2 separate regions of the Homo sapiens genome follow, and region 1 is linked to region 2. Evidence: fine-mapped expression QTL. Tissue or cell type: esophagus muscle. Region 2 holds a variant in brackets; the other region holds the start of a gene. All regions are shown on one strand. Distances are between the middles of the regions.

What was found. PIP is the estimated chance that this variant, and not a neighbour inherited with it, causes the effect.
Region 1: RASEF starts here. The variant in region 2 is the best candidate, but not a certain one, in a credible set for the expression of RASEF in esophagus muscle (GTEx, PIP 0.59).

Annotation. Positions count from the first base shown.
Region 1 is chr9:83,061,460-83,064,377 of GRCh38, reverse strand. It overlaps RASEF (RAS and EF-hand domain containing), which reads left to right and starts at 1,236. Exons shown (of 17, transcript NM_152573.4): 1 at 1,236-1,941. The coding sequence starts at 1,511.
Region 2 is chr9:83,098,458-83,101,375 of GRCh38, reverse strand. It overlaps a transcript of RASEF not described here. Among named protein-coding and RNA genes, the nearest start is that of RASEF, 37 kb to the right of the region's middle. The variant G/A (reference allele first, on the strand shown) is at 1,252.

The sequences.
Region 1 (2,918 bases), 37 kb after region 2:
GTCCAACTGTATACAACTATATTCACTTAGCAATTAGGTTGCTAAGACCAGGACTTCTAATGGAATGCCTCTCATAATTTACCAGTTAAATTTTCAGATGGGGGTTATCAGTAGTAGTTACAGTTTAATAGAAGCTGTTAGTGTTGACCATGTTTATTGTACAATTCAAGAGGAAATAGTTCCCCAGATGTTTAGCACTTAGCTTTATGTTTAAGAACACTAGCCTAGTAGGAACGTGTCAGTAATATCCCTTACTTAATGATCACATTTTTAAAAAATCAAAGTAATAAACGATAAAGAGAATCCAGAATGAGATAAAAGAAAAATACAGAGTCAGAAAGTCTAAAATGTGGAGGAAATGGATAATGTAAATAAAGTAAAAATGAGCCAAATATATCTTCACAGGCTATGAGAATCGCCTAAAGGCACGGTTACATAAGCCGTATGACAGACTGAGGGTCTCCTGGAAAAGGATGGAAAAAGTGTTTAAAAGGATCAAAATGGGTGGATTTTAAAGATCTCATATCCATTAAGCAGTGTTAAAGAAACAATAGTATTGTCGAAAAAAGTGTTTAAAACCAAAGGGTAACCTACCTTTGGATATGTAATTTCCATAAAGTTTGTTTAAGTAAAAAAACCTACAAAACGACCTCAGTCTTTGTTTAAACAATGCTGTCTGCCAAACGATTTTGTTTATCAAATTTTTTCTCAGGTTTTGGAGACAAGGATTGAGAAAAAATGTGGAATTGGAGATCTGGAAGATCTGTGTTTAAGCAGTGGGACCTTAACGTTAGACGCACAAAAATGCGTTAACGAAAGCCAGTAAAATTGAGAATGGGGTCTTCTGGTAAATCTTGTACTTTGGTTTGTAAGAAACTTCTATATAAAGAAGTTTATCAAGTTTCGGGAGTAAGATAATAAAATGCACTTAACCCATTCGGAATCCTACCCCTACCTACCTTACCTCTGTGCGGTTAGCTTCTGACGCGCGCGCCAGCACGTTCTGTGGAGAAGCGGAGCGCTGGGCTCTACCTGAGCAGCGCTTACGCCGAAGGGCAATGCTCCCCCCGAATCCCAGTTCCGGCCAGCCAGGTCTCCCCCACCTGCGCGGCAAGCAGCGGTGGACTCCGGGGCGTGGGAACTGGAGAAGCGGTGGCGCGCGCTCCTCCTCCCTGGCTGGGCGGAGCTGCACCCGCCGGGAAAGTGGCGAGAGCCACCTCGGCGCTTGGGCGCTCAGTCGCAGGAGGCGCTCCTTGGCGGTGCCTGGAGCCCGGGCGCACCCCACCGCTCCCGGGACCTGTTGGGGGCTGGCCCGAACCGTCGTCGAAGGGAGCCGCTCGGCCACCCCCGACGTTCCTCGCCCCGCCCGACGTTCCCTCAAGTGGCCGAACCAGCCGGACGAGCCAAACTCGCCGGGCCTCCCGGCGGCAGCAGGTGGCCCCGTCCTTCCAGGGAGGGCCCTGCGCCCCGCGGCGCTCCGGAGCCCTCTCGGCCGCCCCCGCCAGGCGGGATGGAGGCGGATGGGGACGGAGAGGAGCTGGCCCGGCTGCGCTCAGTCTTCGCCGCCTGCGACGCGAACCGCTCGGGGCGCCTGGAGCGCGAGGAGTTCCGGGCACTGTGCACGGAGCTGCGGGTGCGGCCGGCCGACGCCGAGGCAGTATTCCAGCGGCTGGACGCCGACCGTGACGGCGCCATCACCTTCCAGGAGTTCGCGCGTGGCTTCCTCGGGTCCCTCCGCGGGGGGCGGCGCCGGGACTGGGGTCCTCTGGATCCCGCGCCCGCCGTGTCTGAGGCGGGGCCGGAGACACACGACAGCGAGGAGGACGAAGGCGACGAGGACGCGGCGGCGGCGCTGGCCACCTCGTGCGGCCCGGCGAGTCCCGGCCGGGCTTGGCAGGATTTCCAGGCGCGACTTGGGGACGAAGCCAAGTTCATTCCCAGGTGCGAGTGTGAGCTGGGGGCGGGAGGTTATTCTGGCGCTTCCTGCTTGCTTCTTCCCACTTACTTGCAGGTGTGCAGACCCAATGGCCCCCCCCCCTAGTCTTCTCTGTGAGTTGCTTGTCTTCCTTCACCTACTCGCTTTGACTTTTCCAAGATCCGCTAGAGTTAAGAAAAAGGAGTCAGAGAGTCAGCGTTTGGGGAGAAAGTTTTACGTGCTGAATCCTGAGCCTGCAAAGGGCGGCGTGTTCATTACAGGAGCTCTCCTGAAATCTGCAGCTGCTGGCGCCCCGCGCGAGTTTAGGCGCGCGCGCCACATCTCACCGCGTCCTGGTTACGTCACCTTCTACCCCAGGCCTTAGGCTCTCACCCCAGGGCTGGGGCCCGGGCTGTTTGCCAATTTGGCGTCCTCTGTAATAGTTTTCTGATTTGTCGTTTTCCTAAGACTATAGAAAAGGAAACTTTGTTGGGCTTTTACATTGCTGGACACAAATATTGATTGATGTACCTGCTAGGCATTTTACAGAGTTCACGCATTTAATTTTCATAACATCCCTAGAAGGTAGGCTAGCTTATTTCTGAACTTAGACCTAGAAATTAGACAGACGTTAAGGGACTTGCCCAGTTAAACAGCAGAGATTTGACCCAAATTTTGTGAACTGAAAAACTCACTTTTTATGTGACGGAATAAAATGATAAAATGACACAGTATATTCTCTGCTCTTACTGCTCTGACAGAAATAACGTGTCAAGTCACGGACTTAATTATCAGGAGGTAAGGGGATGCCTGCAGGTGGGATTTCAGGGCCTGGAGGGAGAGAGGCTCAGATTTTCTTTTTGAGTTTCGTTTGCATTTGTCCATGCCTTGGTGTGGTGGGTGTCTCCAGCTGCTATTTTTCACTTCATGCCCCAGCGATACACACATTTCAGTGCTGTTAAGTGTTTTTCTGCTTTATGTTTGGATTTTAGCTGAAATTTTG
Region 2 (2,918 bases):
AGGAGTGTAGGGTCCTTGGCCCTGCAATGTCCGCACCTGCAGACCCCGAATATCAGGAGTGTCCCCAAGGTTTCTGAGGCCTGCCTAGTCAGGAACCTGGAAAATTTATAAGAGGTAACTGTGCTTAATGTTGCTGTCTTCAAAATGGTGAGAGTTTCTGGACTCAGAATGACTTTTTCAGTGGTCTCCATGTTTCTATATTGCCAGAATATAAGGCTAGTAATGCTTTTGTAGCTTCCTCATGTCATCGTGAAGTAATGAACTGAAATGCACATTTAAAGGGGGACAGAATCTCCTAGTATCTGTGTGATAAGAAGGGTTTGCACATTGGATTATGACTACTCAAAAAAAGAAATATTTGAAACTGGAGGAGCAAATGTAATTCTCCTAAGGAAACATTGCTATTTAGTAGGTAATATACCTAATAGTTGACCAATCAACTGAATCTTTTGCCATTTGTGTAACTGAACTAACATTTACAGGAATCAATAAAACTATGAAAAACATAAGAGATAATAACAATGATAATAGTTATCATTTATTGAGCCCATTCTATGTTCCAGGAACTGTACAGGGCACTTGTTATAATATTATTTCATTAACTTCCTCTCTTCCCTGTGTCAGAAGTAGCAGCATCTCCAATTTGCAGGCAGAATGATTGAGGTTCTAGGAGTTGCAAGAGGTATGGTACAGGTCACAAAGCTAGCAAGCATGGAACCAGGCTTTCTGATTTGTTATCATGAAATCCCATTGACTTCCTTCTGTATGGAAGGAGAGGGGGTATACTTCTCCTTCCAAATATGATTAGTTAAAAATGATATGACAATGAGATGGGCTGATTTTCATAAACTGAATATTGATTCACATAATATTCTGTGAATTTAGAGTGGAGAGTATTTCTGGCTGAGAACAGATGATCACCATGTAACTTTTGTAAGCTTTGTGATACTGGTTGGTTGAAAGCCAGTGAAAAGATGTTCTGATGTAAGCAGCTGAATGAAAAATTTTATGAGTTCAGTTTTATCTTTTACTAGCTTCATCTTGGGCTCTGAGCTGTTCTTGCCTTGAATGCTCTCTGAAGAAGCAATGAGAGAACAATACTATATTTCTTTTTCTTTTTAATAGAAATGTCATATACTTGAAAGAAGTTATTCATTAAAAGTTGAAAGTCTGTTCTCAGCTTGCTAGATAATGTATTTAGATATATTTGGGAAAGTCTTTCACAAGCTCAAAGTTCTGGGAAGAAATAAA[G/A]TCTCATTCTTAGTCTGTTTTCACTCAAAACTGCAAACACACAGCAACAGTAGCTTAATCTTACTCAATTTCTAGACATTCACTTTTAATGCACGAAAAACTCTTAAATTAACAATATGTACATAATGTTGGATTGCTTGATATCTTAAATAAGATGATGGATGCTGTGCTATTGCTTAAATTATTTGCATCTGATTTCATAAGTGCTGTATCACCATAATATTTGAGGTCACTTAGTTACTTTAAGCATAATATGGGATAAGCACTTCCATGACTCTCTTGATTTTTATTTTCCAATGGGGATTCTGCAGATTCTGGCACTAATGTATGCAAGCTCACAAATTTAGAGGCTGCCCCCAAAATATCTTTGTGCGTGCTCCAGGTGCTGCTCACCAAGCAAAGCGCAGTTCCTGGGACAAGGTCAGTGCTTCATAAATGTGTGCTGAGGACTAGACTGAGACCAGGTCATCAAGACCATCTCATGGCAAATTATGTATAAATTGAAATTTTGTGAATCAAGTCTCATTTTAACTACTGAGTAAGGGCTTGCTATATTTTGGAACTATGCCTCAAATTATTTGTAAAATGAATAGCTACTTCTTGATTTACCTGCTATATAAGTTTGACTTTCTCTTACATAAAATTACCTTAAAGGGTGGATCACCTGAGTATATGAGAAAATAACTTAGCGTAACACGGTATGGTGAACAGGATCTCGCCTATGATTTTCCATCTTTTTATGCCCTGGAACATCAGACCCTTTCTGTGATGTTCTCTGAATGCCAAGCTTTTCAATAAGTTCTTAAAAGAGTCATCATGGAAGAAAAACATGCTAACTTTGCCCTTGAGATTTTTTCAGCTTTGGAGTTTAAGGTTTTAAAAGTGGGCTTTTGTAGTCACTTATGTAGAGAGCATAAGTATATATATGTGCACTTAAATCAGACTATAACAGGTACAGGGAATATTACAGCATAATAATGAGACATCATAGATATATGGATAGATAGAACATATAATAAATATAGATATATGGAAAGACAGAGATAGATGTCAGGGTGGATGAAGGATATAGAGGATTTGATTATCCTTTCTCTGTGGGTGTGTACATCTACAATAAGCCACTATTCTCAGATCCTGCTCTATTATAAATTATGAGAGGAAAAATCTGGGTCTGTGTTCAGTTCCTAGAACCATCTGATATGGTTTGGCTCTGTGTCGCCACCTGAATCTCACCTTGAATTGTAATAATCCCCATGTGTTAAGGGTGGGGCCAGATGGAGATAATGGAATCATGGGGGGTTTTCTCCCTTCCTGTTTTCACGGTAGCAAATAAGACTCACAAGATCTGATAGTTTTATAAATGAGAATTCCCTGCACAAGCTCCCTCTTTGCCTGCTGCCATGTAAGATGTGACTTTGCTCCTCCTTGCCTTCCACCATGATTGTAAAGCCTCCCCAGCCATGTGACACTGTGAGTCAATTAAACCTGTTTCTTTTTTAAATTACTCAGTCTTGGGTATGCCTTTATCAGCAGTGTGAGAATGGACTAATACATCATCTTAGTTGCAATTAGGCACTTAATAATTTTATGATTATAATGATATTAGGGAGATAAATAAAATCTTTCTGTCAACAGAGTAGAAAGTAGTCATAATCATGAGGGTTAAA